Homo sapiens: one gene and its partners. The protein of the gene in region 4 purifies or fractionates together with the protein of the main gene of each other region. This does not show direct contact. Each region holds a gene or a part of one and is shown on either strand. Other genes may lie near its edges. The genes, in order: ITPRIP, NPEPPS, BRAT1, SLC67A1, NUP133, WDFY3 and ABHD17B.

Region 1 (2,633 bases), on a different chromosome or scaffold from region 4:
GTGTTGTTTATAACAGCAAAAAGTGGAGACAACTTAAGTGTTCCTCAGTAGGGAAAGTTGGGTAAATTATGGTACATGCATACAGACAGTGAGATAGTAAGCAGCCATATATATATATATATATATATATATTTTTTTTTTTTTTTTTTGAGACAGGGTCTTACTCACTCTGTCACCCAGGCTGGAGTGCAGTGGAGTGATCACGGCTCGCTGCAGCCTCTGCCTCCCAGGCACAAGCAATCCTCCCACCCCAGCCTCCGGAGTAGCTGGGATTAGAGGTACACGCCACCATGTCTGGCTAATTTATATATTTTTTGTAGAGACAAGGTTTGCCATGTTGCCCAGGCTGGTCTCAAACTCCTGGGCTCAAGCGATTTTCCTGCCTTGGCCTCCCAAAGTGCTGGGATTATAGGTGTGAGCTAATGTACTCGGCCAGTAAGCAGCTAGTTTAAAGAATAAGGTAGAGCCAAATGTTCAAAAAGATAACCAAGAAGAATTAGTCGGTATGATGCCATTTATGTAAAAAAGGACTAAAAGGATGCATATATATATACATACATGTGACACATACACAGAAAAATTTTGGAAGGATACACCAAAAACTTCATATTGGTTATCTCTGGGGAGTGGACTAAGAAGTCAGAAGTGGGACCGTTAGTCTGTTACTTAATTTTCCTGTTAGTACTTGAATTTTAAAATTATGACTGTATTATTGCTTTTATGTTTATTTTTTAAACAACAAACTAGTTAAACAAGCAAGCTATTTTTGGATGGCAATGAGAAAAGTTAACTCTAAAAGATGCCCTTCCCAGGGACAGGGGTGGGGCAAGGCAGAGTGGGGCGGAGAGGGAGGGCCCTGTTGAAGGCACACATTGCCCTTCACTCTGTGACTCTTGGCTCCCTCTGCTTTCGGTCGCTGGCCAAACCAAACAGCCTTCCAGCTCTGTCCCGTGAGGTGGAGATGAGACGGACCACGAAAATGTTCTGAATCACAGCCTTGGGGTGGCTTGAGTTAAGACTTCCTGGACATTCACCAACCACTGCCAGCTGCCACCAACCCTGCTCGGGAAGCCGGCCATGTACCCTACAGCACAGGACATGGATGGCACTGATCACATAGATAAGGACTCCTTAGTTTGGGGGTGAATCAAGTTACTGTCTCACTCAAAACCCGCCAATGGCCCACCTCTGCTTGTTGTGAGGTCCAAATTTACCTTGTATTAGCATTCAAGGCTTTGCATGGTTCAGCCCCACTCTTATCTTTTCAACCTCATTTGCTACGACTTCTCAGTATATGCCAACATGTACACCAGGACTGCCTGGGTTGGAATCTGGGCTGTGCTACTTACCACTGTGACAGTAGGTAAGTCAGTTGCCCCTTCAGTGCCTGTTTCCTTATCTGGAAAGCAGGGAGGATAAGAATAGCACCTACATCATAGGACTGACATGGAACTGTGTGCATTAACAAATGTGTGTGCGGAACGGTGCCTGCCATACAGTAGGTGCTTCCCACCCTCACTCCATGCTTCTGGCTGGAATGTCTTTCCTGGCCACAGTCCTGGTCATTTTTCAGAGTCTCTATCTGGCAGCGCCCCACCATGAGGCCTTCCCTAATCAGCCCAGGTACCAGTGGTTCTTGGACATCCAGAATCAGGTGGGGAACTTGGTGAAGTGCAGATTCTTCTACCTAACTTCTCAGGATCCCACTGGAGTCTGTGACACGGCCCAGGAAGCTGCCCCCAGGTGACACCCGTATGTGTAGTGCAGGGTCACACTTGGAATAGCTCAGTACTTGGAAGGCCACCTTCTGCTGCCTCTCCTAGGGAACAGGCTTGGTCCTATTCATTTTCCCATCTTCCACAATGTCTCATGCACGTTAGGCTCCTGACAAATGCTTGTGGACTATTCATGACCTGCTTGGGAGAAGGGCTCACCATCTTATGCCTTCCCACCCTCTCTCTGAGGCTTACGGCACTAGCGTGAATGTGGGTGCCCTCATGAGAAGCTTGTGGTGTAGCTGATGCCACTTAGACCACAGATTCCAAGCAGGCTCATTGGCTTTTCCCAGGTCTATCTATCTTCCAATAGATCTGTAGGGAAAGTAGTCCACTTGGGTTTTCTTTAACTTTCCATTAAGAAAGAAAGTGAGAGGGCTTCCTCAGCTAGGGGTACCATCAGTCACTTGGGGGAAATCTTTAAAAATCGAGCCTAGCCTGACCACTCCAGACTGGATTCTGAGCACCATGTAGGTTCAAGGCGGGGTCGGGGCAATGGACCAGGTTGTCTGGGTGATTCGGATGACACCCTTGATGATGAACCAGAGCTCCACCCCCAGGTTCTCAACGGGGGCTGTGCTTCAGCCAGGCATGCAGAGGGGCTAGAGCTTTTGAGGATATAAGGCCCTTCCCCAACATAACCAGCCTCTTGGCCTAGGGGCCAACTCTATTCATTTCACCCTTGTTATTTTGCAAAGCAAGTGAGCAGTTGCTGGGGAAAGTCAAGCATCCTTGGGAAAGAGACTCTGGGGAAAGAGGGCAGGGTTGTCCTTAGTGGAAAGGCCAAAGTCCCCTAGAGGACTCAAAATCCTCTATTTAAAATACAATCTCTTTCTTTAAAACCCAAAAGCTTCCTGT
Region 2 (3,500 bases), on a different chromosome or scaffold from region 4:
TGTTGTTAAGCAACACATGACTGTATTCCCTTTATTTTTTATTTTTTTCAGACAGGATCTTGTTCTGTTGCCCAGGCTGGAGTGCAGTGGTGCCATGATTGCTCACTGTAACCTCAAACTCCTGGGCTCAAGTGACCCTTCCCACTTCAGCCTCCTGAGTAGCTGGGACTACAGGCACATACCACCACACCCGGCTAATATTTTTGTATTTTTTGTAGAGGTGGGGTCTCGCTATGTTGCAAGCTGGTCTTGAACTGGGCTCAATCAGTCCGCACATCCTGGCCTCCCAAAGTGCTAGGATTACAGGCGTGAGCCACCACACCCGGCCCAGACTCTTTAAGTTGGCAAAATACTCAGTTATGGAAAGCAGAATGCTGGAGGATGACCAAAGGGATAACGAGTCCTGATTCATGTTGACCCTATGACTTACTGCAGGTTGAGTATCCCTTATCCAAAATGCTTGGGACCAGAAATGTTTTGAATTTCATATTTCTTTTGGATTTTGGAATATTTGCATTATACTTACTAGCTGAGCATCTATAATTGGAATATCCAAAATCTAAAATGTTCCAATGAGCATTTCCTTTGAGCATCATGTTGGCACTCAAAAAGTTTCAGATTTTGGGTGGGAATTGAACAATGAGAACACTTGAACACAGGGCGGGGAACATCACACACCAGGGCCTGTCATGGGGTAGGGGGCTGGGGGAGGGATAGCATTAGGAGAAATACCTAATGTAAATGACGAGTTAATGGGTGCAGCAAACCAACATGGCCCGCACATGTATACTGACGTAACAAACCTGCACATTGTGCACATGCACCCTAGAACTTTAATTAAAAAAAAGAAAGAAAGGAAAGAAAAAGTTTCAGATTCTGGAGCATTTCAAATTTCAGATTTTGAGATTAGAGATATTCAACCTGAACACAGCTTCAAATAAGGCTAATTTATTTATTACATGGATCCTGACCTTAAGTATTCAGAACAAAAATAAAATGTCCCAGCCTGGATAGAGTGACAATACTTTCTCTCCATTTCTATCTCAAGCTATTAGAGATTACCTGTGGCAGCATTCTTTTGTTGGAACTTGGTTAAATACATGTTCATTCCTTTCTTAAAGTCCTGAGAAAACACAATTTTTAAAATCCAGGGAAGTCAGATCTCAGAATTTATAGTATATTTGTATATCAGTAATCAAAAACAAATTTACTCAAATACTCAAGTATCAGATACACTGAAACACATATATCCTTCTGATGCCTACTGCCTTTTATTTAATAATGCGTACTCTATGCCTTCTATTCTTGCTCTTAAGTTTTGTAACAGCCTCCCATTTCCACTCCCAAACACACCTGCACATCACTCATCTAAGAGACCAGAGTAGTCAACTTCAAATAATTGAATTCTCATTCTTTTTGGTCATTAAAAAAAAATGACAAGCCAGAAACTATTTGGGAACTTAATCCAAATAAAGTGAGACTTTTTTTCATGCAAAACTCTTATGATTTCACCATAAAAGAATGAAATATTTAAAGTTTTTTTTTACCTTATCCCCAATGTAGTCATGCAGCATTCGGATGACAGATGCACCTTTGCTATATGATATAGCATCAAATATCTCATCAACCTCAGATGGATGGCCCACACTGACCTGGCAGACAGTGTGATTCAGGGTTATGACAGGAAGCAGATAGCCTGTAATACTGAATTACATAAAACGCTTTCTAGGAAAACCCTTCTAACTTACATTTTTCTGCCTTTAACTCACTCATAATGTATAACGATGGTCCTCAAAAAAATGTAGTAACTAATAATAATAAAGTTGAATAGAACATGATTCCTGTCATCCCTTAGAGCCTGGGTTCCAGTCCTGGCTTTGTTCTGCTGGGAAAGAAGCCACTATGGTTCTGTTTATTTTTGGGGTAGTTGCAGAGGAGTGATGAGGAAGATATGGAGGTGAAGAACATTAGATTTCTTGCACTAATTGTAATGAATTACAATTATATGGGAGCCTAATTAAATATGTTGAAGTAGCATTATAACTCTAGTTCTTTAGATACAAAATTTATATATATAAACTGAAGTAGGGATAGGCTAAGTCAAGAGAATTAAAGTATTCACAAAACAGACCCTGACAATAAAATATGTCCAGAATTTTCCTTGACATAAACAATGGAACCATAGTGTTACCCAATAGGTATGACTTCTCCCATACTATTCTTTTTCTTTTTTTTTGGCAGAGTTTTTTGCTCTTGTTGCCCAGGCTGGAGTGCAATGGCACGATCTCGGCTCACCGCAACCTCTGCCTCCCAGGTTCAAGTGATTCTCCTGCCTCAGCCTCCCGAGTAGCTGGGATTACAGGCATGCGCCACCGTGCCCAGCTAATTTTGTATTTTTAGTAAAGACGGGGTTTCTCCATATTGGTCAGGCTGGTCTCAAACTCCCGACCTCAGGTGATCCACCTGCCTCAGCCTCCCAAAATGCTAGGATTACAGGCATAAGCCACTGCGCCTGGCCAGACCAATTTTTTTTTACTGCCTACCTTAAAAAGAAATGTTAATTAGAACTTAGACTTACTAGCTTTTCAAGACTAGAAATATGAACCAGTAAAATCACCCATGCTATTTTCTCTTATTTTCAAAGTCCAAAGTATCTATGTAACAAATTACGTATTTCATTGTAAATGAGAGCAGTCATAGGCTAATGGTTAGAAAGTATGGCTCACTTCAATAGGATGGCTGTTATCTAAGGCGTCAAGCTCCTGGGCACGGGTGTAATCAGCAGAAACAAACTGAGTCCAAATATCATACTCTGGGAAGCAGTGGTCTACACACAGATATTCAATCCAGGATGCAAAACCTTCATTTAACCAAAGATGAGTCCACCATTCCTAAAAACAAAAGATGAAAATACTTAAAGAAAATGAAATGATTGTCATTCTACTAATCTAAAACACTCACATGTCCCTTCCACTATATTCCCAAACTCACAATTTAATGACCTAAAATTCAGTTCAAAACATTTGGCAAAGAACTCACATTTCTGAAAAAGAGAGAAGACTAAAAGAGATGTCAAGAAAGGCCAACTGGTGATATGAGAATTATATCTGAGGGTCATTTTCTTTTCCTTTCTTTTCTTTTTTTTTTTTTTGAGACAAAGTCTTGTTTTGTCACCAGGCTGGAGTGTTCACCAGTAGCTGGGATTACAGACATGTATCACTATGCCTGCCTAATTTTTGTATTTTTAGTAGAGAGGGGGTTTTGCCATGTTGGCCAGGCTGGTCTGGAACTTCTGAACTCAAGTGATCCACCTGCCTCGGCCTCCCAAAGTGCTAAGATTACAGGTGTGAGCCACCATGCCTGGGCTAAAGGATATTTTCAAAACATTGTAAATAACTTCTCCCGCAAACCCAGACAGGGTCTCATTCTGTTGCCCAGGCTGGAGTGGCAGGGGCACCATCGTAGCTTACTGCAGCCTTGAACTCCTGGGCTCAAGCAAT
Region 3 (3,500 bases), on a different chromosome or scaffold from region 4:
CTGTTGCCTAGGCTGGAGTGCAGTGGCACATCTCGGCTCACTGCAACCTCTGCCTCCTGGGCTCAAGCTATTTTCCTGTCTCAGCCTCCTGAGTAGCTGGCATTACAGGTGCCCACCACCACACCCAGCTAATTTTTTCATTTTTAGTAGAGACAGGGCTTTACCATGTTGGTTAGCCTGGTCTCGAACTCCTGACCTCAGGTGATCCGCCTGCCTCAGCCTCCCAAAGTGCTGGGATTATAGGCATGAGCCACCGTGCCCAGCCTGGAGGGTACTTTCATACCAGCTGCTGACAGACAAGGGCCCCCGGATTCACTGTACGGCAGCACCCTAGGACACCTTGGAAAGTCTGTCCTGCAGCAAGATGGTGCCTGGGTGGGCTGCTAGGGAGCCTGCAGCTGCTTAACTGGGGGGCATCGTGAACGGCAAGCTAACGGTACTGGATGTGCCTTCGCACAACCTGGCGAGGGCCTGTGAGGCACCAAGAGAAGCCGTCGTGGTAGACGGGCAAGGGCCCTGAAGCTCACACCACGCATCCCGACAGACTCAGCGGTGCCTGTCTGAGGCACTTGAAGCTGGAAGACACAGCTCTGGGAGGCTCTCGAGCTCTCATGCCTTGCTATGTAGAAATTCTTGGCTGGGAGCAGTGGCTCACGACTGTATCCCAACACTTTGGGAGGCCGAGGCAGGATGATCGCTTGAGACCAGGAGTTTGAGACCAGCCTGGGCAACATAGTGAGACCCCATCTCTACCAAAGATAACAAAGTTAGCCAGGTGTGGTTCATGCACCTGTGGACCCAGCTACTCGGGAAGCTGAATGGGGAGGGTCACTTGAGCCCAGGAGGTCAAGGCTGCAGTGAGCTGCCACTGCACTCCAGCCTGGACGACAGAGCAGGACTCTGTCTCTAAAAAACAAAACAAAAAAAGGCCGGGTATGGTGGCTCACGCCTGTAATCCTAGCATTTTGGGAGGCCGAGGCAGACGGATCACTTGAGGTCAAGGAGTTCGTGATCAGCCTGGCCAAAATGGTGAAATCCTGTCTCTACTAAAACTACAAAAATTAGCTGGGCGTGGTGGCAGGTGCCTGTAGTCCCAGATACTCGGGAGGCTGAGGCAGGAGAATCGCTTGAACCTGGGAGGTGGAGACTGCAGTTAGCTGAGTTCGAACCATTGCACTCCAGCCTGGGTGACAGAGCAAGACTCTGTCTCGAAAAATAATAATAAAATAAAATAAAAATAAATAAAATTAATTTTTTAAAAAAAAGACATTCTCATTAGTCATTCACATTCTCATTAGTTATTCATTCATTTGTAGGCTGGGTCGCTGGAGGTGCAGGATGTGCGGTCTCATTTGGTCCTCACGACAACCCCACGGCGCAGCTACGACTCCTGTCTCCGTCCCAGGAAGAGACGGGGGCCACGGGGCAGCTACGACTCCTGTCTCCGTCCCAGGAAGAGACGGAGGCCACGGCGCAGCTGCGACTCCTGTCTCCGTCCCAGGAAGAGATGGAGGCTTGCGGCCGTGGGCAAGCTCAGACAGCTGGTCAGAGCTGGGAGCCCGTGCCAGTCATCTTATTCCAAAAAACCTCAACTCCTTAGCCCCAGCATCACTCCGGGCGAATTTTTCAAAGGGGGCTACAGTCGGGGGTAAAAAACATGCAGTTCTAGTGAGGACACAGGGTCGGGGCAGGCCGCTGGGACTTGGGATGGTGATGGCTACAAATGCCCCACCTGGCTGCGGGAGGAAAAGCCTGCCCACCTCTCCACGGGACACTCAGGTGGGAGGCCCCAGGCTCACCTGAAGATACTGGAAGCAGTTTTCCTGGGCTGCGAAGGTTCCTGCCAGGCGCAGTGAGAAGGAGAGGACCCCAGAACTCAGGTCCTGGACTTTCAGCACATGGGACAGCAGCTCCACCAGGCAGGGGTGCTCCTGCAGCAGCACGACACTGGACTCTGTGGGGATGGCCCAGCCCAGGGGTCACCAGGGGTACGGCACCAGGTGTCCCCCTGGATGACCGCTCTTCTCCTAGCAATTCCCAGACCCTTTTCTTGCAGGGTGTTAGATTTAGGGATCCAACTGGGAAAAAAATATCTGCAACAAATACGGCAAATGACTCATAATTTTAATTCAGTAAGGGCTAGAAAGCCAACACCTTAACAACAGGTGAAAGGCGGAACACTGTCACCTTTCACAACAGGTGAATGGCCAAAAATGCTGAAAAAATGTTCTGTCTCACTGATAGTGAAAAAGAAATGCAAATTAAAGTGAAAGACCAGGCTGGGCGTGGTGGCTCACGCCTGTAATCCCAACACGTTAGGAGGCCAAGGCGGGTGGTCACTTGAGCTCAGGAGTTCGAGACCAGCCTGGCCAACATGGCGAAGTCCCATCTCTACTAAAAATACAAAAAATTAGCCAGGTGTGGTGGCTCATGCCTGTAGTCCCAGCTAATTGGAAGGCTGAGGCAGGAGAATCGCTTGAACCTGGGAGGCAGAGGCTGCAGTGAGCCAAGACCACGTCATTGCACACGGCACACTCCAGCCCTGGGCGACAGAGCGAGACTCCATTCCAAAAAAAAAAAAAAAAAAAAGTGGAAGAGCATTTTCACCTTCCAAATGGGTACTTTTCCTTAGACAGTGCTCCATGCAAGCAGGTACAATGGAACAAACATTCCTCTCCAGAACTGGCATCCTGTATTTCTATAACCAGCTATGCTATCGCTCAAAAGCACCAGTGGGGGAAAAAGACATTTTGAGGCAAAGGTTGGGAGAGTTTCCCAGTGAGAAGCCCCTGTGGAAAGAATGTGGTTCAGTAAGGAGAGTGAGGAGCATGCAGAGGAGGAGAACCAGGCCAGGACCCAAAAAGCACTATGTCCACCTGAATCAGCACTGCAGGCTGGGTGAGGTGCTCATACCTGTAGTCCCAGCACTTTGGGAGGCCAAGGCAGGAGAACAACATAGCAAGACCCTGTCTCTACAAAAAATAAAAAAAAATTAGCCCGGCATGGTGGCACACATCTGCAGTCCCAGCTACTCAGGAGGCTGAGACGGGAGGATTGCTTGAGCCCAGGAGTTCGAGGCTGCAGCAAGCTATCACTGCACCACTGTACTCCAGCCTGGGCGACAGAGGGAGACCCTGTCTCTCTAAAAAAAAAAAAGGCGGGGCGTGGTGGCTCACGCCTGTAATCCCAGCACTTTTGAAGGCCAAGGCAGGCAGATCACGAGGTCAGGAGATTGAGACCATCCTGGCAAACATGGTGAATGAAACCCTGTCTCTACTAAAATATAAAAAATTAGCCAGGCATGGTGGCGGGCGCCTGTGGTCCCAGCTATTTGGGAGGCTGAGGCAGGAGAACTGCTTGAACTCGGGAGGTGGAGGTTGCGGTGAGCCGAGATCGCACCACTGCACTCCAGCCTGGTGACAGGGCAAGACTCTGTCTCAAAAACAAACAAACAAACAAACAAAAAACAATGCCACTGAGTTCAAAATCTAAAAAATCAT
Region 4 (3,235 bases):
CCTCCCGAGTAGCTGGGACTATAGGCGTGCACCACCTCACCCAGCTAATTTTTTAAAAAATATTTTTAGAAGAGCCGGGGTTTCACCATGTTGGCCAGGATGGTCTCGATCTCTTGACCTCATGATCCTCCCGCCTCGGCCTCCCAAAGTACTGGGATTACAGGCGTGAGCCACTGCGCCCAGCCAGGTTCCCTGATCTTTTAAAGCAACCTGTTTCTGCTCTTGGGCAGGCACACTGTGGGCGGGAGTTGGGCAGTGAGCTCGCCATTGCTTGGGATGTGAGCAAGAGCTGTTTGTGTGGCAGCAGGGGGACCTCCTCCATGGGCGGACTCAGGGCTGTACTAATAACAGTGAACCAATTTGGGTGGTTCTGTCCTCCCCAGAGCTTTGCCCAGCTGTAGGCGCCCTCCTTGAGGAAGCCCTCCAGCCCGAGGCCCCATCCCTCACTGAAGGACGCAGGCAGACCATGCGTGAGCCTGCAGAAACCAGGCCGGAAGAGGTCGGAGGGATTTAGTAGGAGTTTATTGCCAGTCTGTGTCTGGGCAGCGGTCACCGGACTTTGTCCTTCCTCTGGGGCATAGGTTTCCTCCAGAGGACCAGGAGGACAAGGGTATTGATAGCAACCTGCACGTGGCCGAAGACGGGGACGCCAAAGCTGCGGTACAGGAGGCCGCCGACCGTGGGTCCCAGAGTTCGGAGCAGTGGTTGTACAGAGGCGCAGAGGCCCAGCATGGTCCCTGGGGGGTGCATGGGGGTAGTCAGGCCCTGGGCAGCTCCCTGGGCCAACTGCCCACTTCCTGAACACAGCCATGGCCTCCCATCTCTCCTGACCCACCCTGACCTCACGGCGCAGTCCGCACCTTGCATAGTCTGGTGAAATACTCCCCTGAACACCCATCCTTTCCACCTGCCAGCTTCTAACCTCCAGTCCCCCACCCCCTGCCACCCGCCCAGCCTTTGGAGCAAACACAGCTCTCTCTACCCACTGGTCTGTTCCCCGAGGACCTCTCAGCCATGCAGGGTGCTTCCCAGGGCATTGGGCTGAGTCTCTTCCCTGCTCCAGAAAGTTTCCAAGCACAGGAGGAGCCTGGGAATGGGACCACAGGTCACCGCAGAAGGCCCCGCCCTGCCAGGCCTGCCAAGGGAGATGGCATCTGTGCCTGGGGCCCGGAACCTCCCGCCCAGGCTGTCAGGGAGCTGGCTCTCACGGCTCTTTCCCAGGGTGCCTGCCACCACCGAGGGCTGGTGATGCAGTGGGGAGGCTAAGCCTGGCCTGTGAGACACCGTTGGGGCTTGAGTTCAGAGTGGGCATGACACCCCCATCCCACGGCCCCTCCTGGCCATCAGCCCTTCCTCCAGCCGCCCCACCCTGCGGAGCTCCTACTACTCCATGGAACTCCCCCTCACAGGGCTGGGAGGGGCTTTGGAAGCCCATGCAGGGCCCCTCCACCTGCCCCTCCTGTCCCCAGAGCAAGACCGAGCGGCTTCCGAGGCTCCCCAGACAGCCCCGACCTGCGCAGCAGCCTGCTCTGTCCCTGACACCGCATCTCCACGCCCCTGTGGCCAGCTACCCGCAGCATGGACGGGCACGTGGGCACTATCTGTGGCTGTTGTCAACACTCGGGCAACAAGGGGGGCAGCACTCGCCAAGCGGGAGGACCCCCCAGGACTCCAGGTGGGAGGACACTGCCTCTGGTCCCGTGCCCAGAGGGTCTCTGGCTCCAGGGACTTCAGAGCCCAGGTCTCCTGGAGTTGGAACTCCCAGGGCTGGTCAGCTGTGATGAGGAGCTGGCCAGGCCCCACCTGGGCTCAGGGCCCAGCATGGAGGACCATTAAGAGCAGCCTCTTCTGCAGACTCAGGGTGCAGTTCCTGCCCCTTCTGTCGCTGGGTTTCCAAGCTGCTGCTGGGAACCAGATGCTGGCTCCTACCAGGCCAGGGGTGGTGTCTGCGCATGACGTGGCCCAATGGCCTGGGCCTGGTCTCCCTCAGCCTCCAGGGGCCTCTTCCCAGCCAGGCCGGGTCCTCATCTCCCCAGGCCTTCCTCTCCTGTGCCATCCTCCTGGCCTCTCCAAAGTGCTGCCCAACCTCCTCCAGGAAGCCCTCCTGGCTCAGCCTGCATCAGCCCATGCACCATGGAGTCACAGTCCCCGAAGGCCTTGGAGGTTCCCAGGCAGCCCTGAGAATAGGCCTGCCCTTTGCAGCCCGGCCACATCCGGGCCTCTAGACCTTGGTCTGCTGCCTCCCAGACAGGCAGGTGGATGGAGTGTCAGATGTGTGCCCTGAGTTTCTGGATCTGCTGCCTCCCAGACAGGCAGGTGGATGGAGTGTCAGATGTGTGCCCTGAGTTTCTGGATCTGCTGCCTCCCAGACAGGCAGGTGGATGGAGTGTCAGATGTGTGCCCTGAGTTTCTGGATCTGCTGCCTCCCAGACAGGCAGGTGGATGGAGTGTCAGATGTGTGCCCTGAGCTTTCTGGATCTGCTGCTGGGGAGGCCTGGAAGAATCTCCAGTACTCCAAAGGACTCCTGAGTCCTTTGACCTCAACCAGCCCACAGGAGCCCCCTGCACTGGCCAGTGTGTACCCACACTGTGCCTGGGGTGGGGCAGGAGCCTGGATAACATCGGGCCCAGGACACCCCCAGTCTGCATGAGCGGCTCTCTTCGGCCTCAAGAAAGAAAGCTGGGTCGGAAGTGGGGACTGGGGGAATCTATGTCTAGGGGACCTGTGTCCCCTGCAGTGGCCTAGGGGATTCCTGGATTTAATTACTGGTATGCATTCATTCACTCCCTCATTCATTCAGGAAGCTCCTGAGCACTTGTGTGCCCCACTCCCCGTGCTGGGGGAGGGCCCAGAAGTCCCCGGGGCCTCCAGGCCTGGCAGGCAAAGTCCTCAGGTGCTTCTCAGGGCCAAGCCAACTGCCACCTGCGGGCAGCCCCCTCCCAGGCCCCTGGCCTGCCCCCAGCTGGGCTAGGTGGTAGGGCAGGAGTCTCATGCAAGACCCAGGCTCCCCACCTTACTCATCCCACACAGACCCCAAGCCCCCACCCCACCCACTCCACTCAACCCACACAGACCCCAGGCCCCCCACCCTACCCACCCCACACAGACCCTAGGCTGCCCACCCCATCCCCACCGGGTAGCTCCTAGGGCTTCCTGGAGGAGGCTGCTCCACTCGCTGGCCACACTCACCTGTGTCCGAGGTGGAGACAGCCTTGATCAGCATGCTGTCGGTGA
Region 5 (3,500 bases), on a different chromosome or scaffold from region 4:
CATATCCTCAGACCTATAGATGGAGGAAAATTTATTGGCAGTTGATGGTAAAAATAAATTCAAAAATCAAGAAAAGTCACATCTCCTAACTTTTAAAAGTCAGAGTGCCCAAATAAGTCTTATAAACAGGCAAATTCTGGATTGTTACTGAGATTTTTAAGCGATGATATTTTTTATTATAGCTACTCTGCTCAGTGCATCTTTAAATAGCACTAGGTTACAGATGACATCACTTTACAATGTAATACCCCAAACTAATGAACTAATAGACTAAAATAATGACCTCAAAAAGTGAACTTGCTAATTTCTTTCTTTGAGGAATTCCCCTTCTTCAGACATAACAGAAACATTTGTAGAACAGAAGTAAGCAACATAAGAGAATGAACTAAATACATAACTTCTAACTCTTCCTTTGTCATTAATTAATACATGGAGATAACAGTGCAAAAATACCATCAGGCACTGAAACTCCTGTTTCAAGTTCAAGTCTGCACTTAAGCTTTCCCCCCATTATTTAGAGTTTGCATAGCAATGGACACTCAGAGATAAGAGGAAAGAAAAATCAGATTAGCTGCCCTCAAGGACCTCACAAACTGGCTGAAGGAACAAGTTATATAGGCACAGATAAAACATGACCCAAACAAAATCCCTCCCTTTTGCAAACCTTGTTCTTCCTTTTGCATTTCTGATGTTAGCCAAAGGCATCCTAACAGCCCAGGCAAGAAATCTTTAGCACATTTAATTTATAAGCTTAAGTGTAAGAATATTTTACATTGTTAACATGAAAAACACAATGAAAGCCTATATAATGGCCGGGTGCGGTGGCTCATGCCTGCAATCCCAGCACTTTGGAGGTGGGTGGATCACAAGGTCAAGAGATCAAGACCATCCTGGAAAACATGGTGAAACCCTGTCTCCACTAAAAATACAAAAATTAGCTGGGCGTCGTGGCGTGCACCTGGAGTCCCGGCTACTTGGGAGGCTGAGGCAGGAGAATTGCTTGAACCAAGGAGGCCGAGGCTGCGGTGAGCAGAGATTGTGTCACTGCACTCCAGCCTGGCGACAGAGCAAGACTCAGTCTCAAAAAAAAAAAAAAAGGAAAGCATATATAATATAAAAGACAGAAAATAACATAAAAGCACATAAAATGCCAAAACACTTGTTAAATTCTCTTATCATGTATATATTCAGTGATTTCAAATATTGCTCATATGCCGTGTCAACATAGTCTGTTCCTTAAGCAGTGAGCTCTGCTTTTCCAGAGCCCTGGGAGGTACAAGGCCTTCCCAAACTGGAGACAGAGTCAAAGTGGAGAGCGCACCCTCAGGCAGCTCTGTATTGTTTTACTTTCTATCAGGGCTGCCAAGTCAAAATATCGTTCTATATGGCCCACCAATCAGAGATTGATTTTGGTTAACCAGCTCGTCCCAAAACACAAATACTCCTTAGACAGGTAACTTGTCACCCCCAAGTGGAAGGACAGGTAAAAAGAAAGAAAAACTACTATATGCATATAGCTATTGTATTCTCTTTTCATGATCATTATGACACGGGAGAAAACCTTTATAACTACACCCCAGAGAAGCTAAAGACCAACGAACATCATGAGAAATGAAGATAAATAGTGACAGGAACAGTCCTAAACATTACCATTTTTCATATGGAACATTCTTTTGAGGAGCCAATCACATTTTTAGTTTTGCTGTATCATATTCCTAAAATATTATTCTATATGTATCCAACTGATAATTTCCAGACCCTTCTCCAATAATTCAGCTAACTGAAACATGTACATACACTAAATTGACACTTATACTTTGCCCTTTGATCCAAATGCAGAATAATGAACCAGGCTCTTGCTCAGTTCTTACAAGTAGTCTGTAATTAATTTTAAAAAATTGTCTTATCATATAAAATTATATATGAATAAAGACCAAAAAGGACACAAAAATGACAACAACTTGATTTGTTAGATCATGAAACTTGAGGTGATTTGTTTTTCTTTCAGATTTCTGGCATACTGTCTAGATTAAAAACAAAACATAACAAAGTGCTTTTCCTTCCATTCCCCAGGAACTAACCCAAATGCATAAAAGCAAAGAATTCACACTAAACACATTTATGGAATCAACAGGAAGACTGAATTTAGGTTATAGTACATCAAACTTAGGTTACAGTACATCAAACATTAAGAAAAAGAGACTTGTCGGCACAGTGTGCTACATGTTAGAATACAGCTAGGCTATAGGAGGAAGGAAGCAAAATTTGAGACACCAAATAGAGTTTGAAGTTCCTCAAATGCATAAGGAATTCCAAATTTCACAGAGCTCAGGGAAGAGCTGGCCCTGTTTCTAAAACCAGATAGTTCTGCAGTCTCAGTTAAGACAACAGGTCTAAGTTCTAATGTCACACCTTTAAAGGGAGACAGCGAAGTCTGCCTTGCTGCCTCATCAGGCTGTGAAGCTTCACAAAAGCACGAGGACTGCGTCACTATTTCCACAATGTCCAGCTGCCACTGGCTGCCCAGCATCTTAACCATTTCTGTCTTTGAAGTTTGTAGCAGACTTTACTTTTTCTCTGAAAATAAATCTGATTCTACAAGCAAGGTGTAGCAACAGGATCCTAGGAGGTAGCTGAGGAGTTCAGTGAAGGTACTGTTTGCAAAGGTGTGGGCAAGATTAAGGGGTCCAAAAAGGGATGGGGCAGCACCCTAGGATGAGGCATTATCAACCTCAGGCCTGAAGAGGCACAAGGAGGGGGCAGCTACTGGAAACACAGAGAAAGCAGTTGGACAGGAGGCACAGTCCCTGACAGAGGGGCACAGCCAATGTAAAGTGCGCACAGGCAAGGAAGAAAGCTGGCAGAATAACTACTCCAACTTCTGGCCTTATGGCAGGGCCTCACATTCATCTGACCTGGCAGAAGCCGGAGGGCAAGGGAGCCCATTCAGGAAGGCCACCTTGCTGTGGCAGAGTCAAGAGTAGATCTGCCTGGCCAACAAGGGTGAAACCAGGTCTCTACTAAAAATACAAAAATTAGCTGGGCATGGTGGCACATGCCTGTAGTCCCAGCTACTTGGGAGGCTGAGGCAGGAGAATTGCTTGAAGCCAGGAGGCAGAGGTTGCAGTGAGCCGACATTGCACTGTTGCACTCCAGCCTGGCAACAGAGCAAGACTTAGTGCCCCCTGCCCCCAGAAAAAAGAGTAGATCGAGAGAGACAAAGGAGAAGATCAGGATGGATGCAGTAGCTCACGCCTGTAATCCCAGCACTTTGGGAGGCTGAGGCGAGTGGATCACCTGAGGTCAGGAGTTCGACATCAAACCCCATCTCTACTAAAAATATGAAAATTAGCCGGGGTGGTGGCTAGCACCTGTAATCCCAGCTACTCGGGAGGCTGAGGTAGGAGAATCACTGGAACCCGGGCAACAGAGTGAGACTCCATCTCAAAAAAAAAAAAAAAGAAGATCAGCATGCAAAGCAAATAGGTACTTGGAGACAG
Region 6 (3,500 bases), on a different chromosome or scaffold from region 4:
AAACACAGTCTTTCCACCCAGGTACTTTTTTAGTTTCATTGCTGATATTAGTTGTAGTATTTTGTATAATATACTTAACATGTACAAGCAATTGATTGGAAATGAAACTTTTCTGTATTTTTGCTTTAGAATAGAGATAGAAGTAATCCAGACTATGGGAATTTCTCTCATTTTCTTATGATAAAACTATATATGAGTGCTATTTACTTATACCCATTTTATAACTGGATATAAGATGAGATTTAGAGATTAATGTATGATCAGACTATAGATAATTTTCTCTCAATTTTCCCAGCTTTCAATAATGTTATTACTAATAATTATATAAATTTTAAGGCAATAGCCAAACAAGCCTTTTTTAATTTTTACAATCTTGTTGTGTATACCTATGGTTTTTTAAAAGCTCATCTGCCTCCAGCATTAACTTCTTCCTCATCCTACTTCCTTCACCATCCCAGAATCTAAGTGGCAGCTATGAAAAGGATCTGAGAGAAATAGTATGTGTCAGCCATCTCATGCATCAGGTTAGGTTTTCTAGGAAGCAAACTCTGAGATGGAGTTTAGTGTGCATAATGTATATTAGGGGGTGCCCTTGGGATCAATACCTGTGGAAGGGAGAAGAAAGCAGGATTGGACATAGGGAAAAGTCAGGCTGCAGTGCTGGTCTAGTGACAGCCTCAGCCAAGCTAAGTGGAGCTTTGAGGACAGAATACCCTCTTATAATTGACCTCCATTAAGCTGAAATGTGTGAGTCTTCTTACCCCTAGATCGTTGGATGTGGGGCACCCCGTCGGCCCTCTGCAGCTAAGGCCATCCCTGAGGGTGTTGAGAGCAGCCCAGACACGTGGGCAGCAAGCCCTTCCTTGAAGGGGCTTTGGGGGTGGGAGAGCATGCAGATCTGTGTCCATCACACAAGCATATAATTCATTCTGAATTTTTTGTTTTAGTTTTCTGTTTTGGTGCTTTTGGCAGAATTTTAACCAATTATTTAGCATTAATTTCAAGGGTAATTAACTATTTTTTTCCAGAAATCCATGAAATATTAAGACTCTTTTTCCATCCATTGTTAGGAGATTTCGCAGTGGATGTTTACTCACATTGCTGTTGTTCGTGACTTAGTAGATACACAATATAAAGAATATCAGGAGGTAAGGACTTATAATCATCATAATGGTTTGTTTTACATTTTTTGTATGTGAAAGGTCTCTGTTTGTCCTGGTATCTTTCTGCCCATTTTAAGGTACTTGCTGGACTGCATTCGTCATCAGATGATGGTTTTAATTATTCCTGCCATCAGCTACTTTGGCTACTGATTTTAGGATGGAAAATTTTAATCTTCTGTCAACAAACTGCATTTCAAAAAGCAACTAACTGAAAATGAGCCCAGCTGAATTCTGTTGACATTCACTACTGATATGTTACATGTCTTTGTTCCTAATAAAAATAAAAATGTAAGAATGAGCCTTCTTTTTCAGGCTTTTAACAAGGAGATTGTGAAAATACGCATCCAAGTCTCTGAGAAGTCTCTTAAAATTGTAAAAAATTACAAGATTGAATGAAATTATTTTTTACTATACTACAAGTGCTTGGTGATTATGTCAGTGAAAAATAAATTTATTGAAATTCTCTTGGTAAATTCATAATTACTCAAAAGCTTATCTTAAATATTTTATTCTCAGATTAGCTATTTTGGATCTATTAAAGGTTTCTGAATGGTTAACTGCTAATATTTTACGGATATAACACTAGATCCTTAGTTTCCCCAACCAAAGAACATATCAGTACTACTGTGATAGATAATTTTTTAATTGTTCACTCAGTAATCTTTACTGTCAGTTATATTTTAGAAATCTTTATTTTTAGATTTAAATTGTATATACTTATATTCCATGAATCATTGGGCAAGTTATTTGTCACTGTCTACTGTTGAAATGTTATATATTTGTCATTTGATAGATAAGAACTTGTACTGTGTCATAATTTCCATTTAAAAAATGGTTTGGATCTATCCCAGTGGCCAGAAGAAAATGGTTTCTCTTTGATTTTTGTATGAACATCAAGTTTCCTCTTAGTGCTGCATGTTTATATTCTTCATCTAAAATCTTTGGAAATGTTTACCTAGTTCACCAGTAATCAAGCCTGTTGGCACTTTTTCTTCATCTGACTTCCTAGAATATCCCCCGTACATGTTGTGGTAGCTATTTTACAGTTTGGTGTATCCTTAAATTACCATATATATTTATTAACGCACATAGGGCTAACCATTTCAATATAATTCATAGTAATATTACCATCTTTCCTGTGCCAGAGAAACAAACTTCTTTCAACTCTCTGTTTCACTATATTGCACACTCTACCCTATCCATGTCTGTCATTTACTTGATGCTTTAAGAAGTCCACCTTCTACAACAAAACCTCTTACTTTAACCATAAACAAATGTAATTTTACTTTTATAATGTTAACTGAAATGGTGTGGATTGTGTTTGTTTCCAAATAATAACTTGATTTTCAGTGACTTGTAGACTTGTTACTGTTACTCCTGCTTTTGCTTGAAAACCGACCTGGACTCTTTCCTGTCAGCGTCAGCAGAATGCCCTGAAGTACGTGACAGAAGAGTGGTGTCAGATCGAGTGCGAGCTGTTGAGGGAGCGGGGGCTGTGGGGCCCTCCCATCGGCTCCCACCTCGACAAGTGGATGCTGGAGATGACAGAAGGGCCCTGCAGGATGAGGAAAAAGATGGTGCGAAATGATATGTTTTATAACCATTACCCTTACGTGCCAGAAACTGAGCAAGAGACAAATGTGGCGGTGAGTATGCAGAATTCAATGATCACAATGGCTCTTTCAAGTTTTTATTTTCCTCTGTAAGCGTTTTTTCTCTATTTAGTCAATTACCTCAAATAGCTAATTTTAAAAATTCAACATACGCTATTAAATTGATAACTTCAGAGTGGAGGTGGAGTGAAAAGATGCAACAGTGCAAGAAGGAGACATCATAATAAAGAGGTTTAGATTACAGACTCCAGAGCCAGACTGCCCAAATTTAAGACCTGACTCTGCCACTTTGCTATTATAGCTGGGTTATGGGTCATTAAACCTCTCTGAGTTTTCATTTTATTATGCCTGAATTGGAGCAAATAATAGTTCCACCTCGTAGGACTGTTAGGAGGATTTAGTTCATTAAAATTAGTTAAGTACTTAGAATAGTGTCTGGTCCAGAATAAGCACTGTATATTAGAACACATGAATCTTCTAAGTAGCTCTGATCATATAAGGTGAGGCAGCTTGAATTGTTCCAATGCCTCTTGTTTTTCTCTGACAAACACCCTGGCTCCATTTATCTTGTACTGATTGGTTTAACCCCAGTCCTGATGCTAATATAGAGCTTAGCATCAACTTAAGTGTCTATCAGCAGAGTAATAGATAAAGAAAATATGCTGTGTATACATAATGGAATAGTATTCAGCCTTAAAAAAATAAGGAAAGCCTGTCATTTGTA
Region 7 (3,500 bases), on a different chromosome or scaffold from region 4:
GACTAAATGGTTGAGAATATCTGGGGGAAAAAATGCCCTTTTCACTCAATACAGAATCAAATATATCCTATAATGCTCAGTATAAATGTGTTTATAAGAAGCAGCAGAAAAAAGCACAGGAAGAGAGGAACAAGGGTAGGTATAACATAAAAGACTTCAAAAGGTGAGGGAAGGGCAGAAAAACATCTTGGATATTAGGAAATGCTTTAATTGCTTCCTACCTTTATTTCTTTTTAGGCTTCAAAATACAGCCTGAATAAGTTAATGGCTTACTCTGGTTGGAACAAGAAATAGGACAGAAATAACAACTAAGTGTCATCTGCTAACTTTAACTGAGGGCTTCCTGAAGTGTTGTGCTGAGAATGATTCTAAGGCATACACAGGGCTTAGCCAGCAAAAGATGTGATAAATTAGTGATGTTTACTATAGACTCTGGCTACAAATTTACTATCCTGGTCAGGAGGATAAAGTGTCTGTTGAAGAAGATGAAAGGGAAGGAACTCAAAGGATCTGTTCCAGAGGAGGAAATGACCTGCAGAAAGATGATGAGGTACAAGGTATAATATCAGTGCTGTCTGTTTAATATCTGTCTATGGTTATTTGTCAACCCTGATTACCTCATATACCATTGACTGCTGAGCCACAATAGCCTTTTAAAAAGCTTAATAAGTAAATGGTACGTATCTAGACTATAGTCCTATAATTTATCTCTTAGCCAGAAACACTTTTGTTGTTGTTTTTCGAGACGAAGTCTCACTCTATCGCCCAGGCTGGAGTGCAGTGGTGCGATCTTGGCTCACTGCAACCTCCGCCTCCCACATTCAAGTGATTCTCCTGCCTCAGCCTCCCCAGTAGCTGGGATTACAGGCACACACCACCATGCCCAGCTAATTTTTGTATTTTTAGTAGAGATGGGGTTTCATGATGTTGGCCAGGCTAGTCTCGAACTCCTGACCTCAAATGATCTGCCTGCCTTGGCCTCCCAAACTGCTGGGATTACAGGCATGAGCCACCGCACCCAGCAGAAAAACTTTCATACACTATAATAAACTACTTTTGAAATAAAGCTGGCTGGTTGAACATATATAATGCTGTGAAGAAGTTTCTGGGGATGAACACCAAAGGAGAGAAGCAGAAAGGAGAAAAACTGCAGTGCCAGGGTCTAGTTTAATGACAACTTCACTTCCTTAATGCTGACAGAATGACTCCCCTCTTCCACTGCCCAAAAGCCAGATAACTGGGGCTTATTTAATGACAACAACTTGCAAATGATCACTTTCCTAATAAGAGGCCTGGTATAGGGCAGCAACACAGACCTACTTTCAAAAGTTAATTGAATACTTTTTAAGTCTGAAAAATTTCACAAAAACTATAAACAAAACAAATAAATCTAGGTTTTAGTATAGTGTGAGCAAGTTACTGAAGAAAAACATTTTATTCTGTAAAAAAAAAAAAAAATCACTGAAATAGCTTGTTAAACTTAGATAATTTCAAGTCCAACTTGTTCTTATAAAACTCATGCCAGACGCAGTGGATTGCTTGAGCAGTTAACAGTTGAAAAACACATCAGTGAGCTAAAAGATCAGGTTGAGTAATTTGCAAATATGGAATTTTTTTGTGGGAATTAAGAGACAGAAAACAACAAAATTTAATAGATAGAAATAGAAGTAGAAATATCACTATCCATACTATAGAAGTTCCAGGAGAAAATAAAGATAAGACTATTTAAGAATTTCTCAGAATTAAAGGGGGAAAAAAAGTCAGATTGAAACACCTCAAAGTGTACCAAAAAACAACAAACTACTTAAAAATGAACAAGATCAGATGAACATATGACTTTCTAATATAAACACTGGAAGCCAAAAGACAATGGAGAGATAATTTTAAGCTAAAGATGAAATCAAACTTTTAACCTAGAATTGTACATAGAACAAAAATACAGTTTTAATATAAGGATAAAGGTATCTGGGCTGGGTGTGGTGGCTCACTCCTGTAATCCCAGCACTTTGGGAGGCCAAGATGGGAGGACCACTTAAGCAACATAGGAAAACATTGTCTCTATCAAAAAAAACAAAGAGAGAGAGAGATCTGCAGGCCCACAAAAACTCGTAAGACTTAACCAAATCAAGTCTCTCTTTGAAAAACTCCAGCAAGGAGGGAAGGAGATAAATCCAAGGGAAGGCCAGGCACAGTGGCTCACACCTATAATCCCAACACTTTGGGAGGCCGAGGTAGGAGGATTGCTTGAGCCCAGGAATTGAAAACCAGCCTGAGCACCATGGCAAAACTCCATCTCTATAAAAAATACAAAAATTAGCTGGGCATGGTAGTGTGTGCCTGTAATCTCAGCCACTGGCGTGGCTGGAGTGGGAGGACTGCTGGAGCATGGGAGGTCAAGGCTACAGCGAGCTGTGATAGAGCCACTACACTCCAGCCTGGGCTACAGAGTGAGAGCCTGTCTCAACAATAACAACAAAACAAACAAAAACCCCCCAAATCCCAAGGGACTTCTATGAGATATCTGAGATATGAGAAATAAAGGAGAATAGTTAATACAATGTTTTTTGTACAAGTGAGCAATGGGAGCAAGGAGGGTGAAGACAACAAAGTATATCCCTAAAAATCCAGAACAAAAACTTTGGTGAATATGAATACGAAGAGGATTGACAAAAGAGAGACTACTTAAGAGGTAAAAATGTGCTGGGGTACCTGACTTGTTGAGGATGCTACTGATACTGATAAGCTTAAGACATAGAAGAAAAGCCTGAATATAAGCATGACTCTTAATAAGTCAGATATAATCATCAGAAAAATGATAGTGCAGGGCACATCTAAAGGAGTTACAATTATCCATTACAAAAGTCTAGCTTTAAATATTAGTGTCCAACTTAAGAAGAGAGTAAACAAAAAGAAAACAAGAAAAAGAAAATTAAGAGCAGATATCAACAAAACAAAGAACAAAAAGCAATGGAGAACCAACAGCTGATTTCAGAAAAGGCTTCCACTACTACTAATAGCAAATAGCATTAACTGAACACTTACAAAGTGTCAGGCACTATTCTAAACACTTTTCACATATTAACTAATCCTTTCAACAATCCTCTGCTTTAGGGACTATTATTACACCCATTTTGCAATTGAGAAAACAGAGGCATAGAATAGTTACATAAGTTGCCTAATGTCACAAATCTGATCAATGGAACTGATACATGACAGAATGACTCTGTAACCCAAACTCATAACTACTGTTTTGTGGAAAGGGTACTCAGACAAGACTGATCACAAGAAAGAGATAAGCAAAATAAACGAAATAATGTACTAAAGGAAAAAGGACTTTGAGCTACAGACATAGTTTCTAGAAATGAAAGAATATCATGTGTCAATAAATAACCTAGACAAAACTCACGCACTTCTTGAGTAATATAAAAGGACAAAATTGGCACAAAGGCTAGAATATGCAAATAACCATCAGAACTTCAAAGGGAAATCAAAGACCACCT

What was found.
Region 1: the proteins of SLC67A1 (region 4) and ITPRIP purify together in Homo sapiens (affinity purification with mass spectrometry; one large-scale study listed by BioGRID and IntAct). This does not show direct contact.
Region 2: the proteins of SLC67A1 (region 4) and NPEPPS purify together in Homo sapiens (affinity purification with mass spectrometry; one large-scale study listed by BioGRID and IntAct). This does not show direct contact.
Region 3: the proteins of SLC67A1 (region 4) and BRAT1 purify together in Homo sapiens (affinity purification with mass spectrometry; one large-scale study listed by BioGRID and IntAct). This does not show direct contact.
Region 5: the proteins of SLC67A1 (region 4) and NUP133 purify together in Homo sapiens (affinity purification with mass spectrometry; one large-scale study listed by BioGRID and IntAct). This does not show direct contact.
Region 6: the proteins of SLC67A1 (region 4) and WDFY3 purify together in Homo sapiens (affinity purification with mass spectrometry; one large-scale study listed by BioGRID and IntAct). This does not show direct contact.
Region 7: the proteins of SLC67A1 (region 4) and ABHD17B purify together in Homo sapiens (affinity purification with mass spectrometry; one large-scale study listed by BioGRID and IntAct). This does not show direct contact.

What each region holds. Positions count from the first base shown.
Region 1 is NC_000010.11:104,309,200-104,311,832, forward strand, and holds the end of ITPRIP (inositol 1,4,5-trisphosphate receptor-interacting protein precursor), read right to left. Parts: 3' UTR 501-2,633; downstream 1-500. UniProt on the Homo sapiens protein: Enhances Ca(2+)-mediated inhibition of inositol 1,4,5-triphosphate receptor (ITPR) Ca(2+) release.
Region 2 is NC_000017.11:47,590,108-47,593,607, reverse strand, and holds part of NPEPPS (puromycin-sensitive aminopeptidase), read right to left. Parts: intron 2,892-3,500; coding exon 2,727-2,891; intron 1,705-2,726; exon of another isoform or gene 1,653-1,704; coding exon 1,548-1,652; intron 1,124-1,547; coding exon 1,063-1,123; intron 1-1,062. UniProt on the Homo sapiens protein: Aminopeptidase with broad substrate specificity for several peptides. Involved in proteolytic events essential for cell growth and viability. May act as regulator of neuropeptide activity.
Region 3 is NC_000007.14:2,545,525-2,549,024, forward strand, and holds part of BRAT1 (integrator complex assembly factor BRAT1), read right to left. Parts: intron 1,955-3,500; coding exon 1,800-1,954; intron 1-1,799. UniProt on the Homo sapiens protein: Component of a multiprotein complex required for the assembly of the RNA endonuclease module of the integrator complex.
Region 4 is NC_000011.10:2,922,512-2,925,746, reverse strand, and holds the end of SLC67A1 (solute carrier family 67 member A1), read right to left. Parts: coding exon 3,191-3,235; intron 738-3,190; coding exon 550-737; 3' UTR 501-549; downstream 1-500. UniProt on the Homo sapiens protein: May act as a transporter of organic cations based on a proton efflux antiport mechanism. May play a role in the transport of chloroquine and quinidine-related compounds in kidney. Plays a role in the regulation of lipid metabolism.
Region 5 is NC_000001.11:229,466,842-229,470,341, forward strand, and holds part of NUP133 (nuclear pore complex protein Nup133), read right to left. Parts: intron 1-3,500. UniProt on the Homo sapiens protein: Involved in poly(A)+ RNA transport. Involved in nephrogenesis.
Region 6 is NC_000004.12:84,732,691-84,736,190, reverse strand, and holds part of WDFY3 (WD repeat and FYVE domain-containing protein 3), read left to right. Parts: coding exon 1-21; intron 22-1,070; coding exon 1,071-1,148; intron 1,149-2,513; coding exon of another isoform or gene 2,514-2,516; exon of another isoform or gene 2,517-2,532; intron 2,533-2,581; coding exon 2,582-2,809; intron 2,810-3,500. UniProt on the Homo sapiens protein: Required for selective macroautophagy (aggrephagy). Acts as an adapter protein by linking specific proteins destined for degradation to the core autophagic machinery members, such as the ATG5-ATG12-ATG16L E3-like ligase, SQSTM1 and LC3.
Region 7 is NC_000009.12:71,876,694-71,880,193, forward strand, and holds part of ABHD17B (alpha/beta hydrolase domain-containing protein 17B), read right to left. Parts: intron 1-3,500. UniProt on the Homo sapiens protein: Hydrolyzes fatty acids from S-acylated cysteine residues in proteins. Has depalmitoylating activity towards DLG4/PSD95. Has depalmitoylating activity towards GAP43. Has depalmitoylating activity towards MAP6. Has depalmitoylating activity towards NRAS.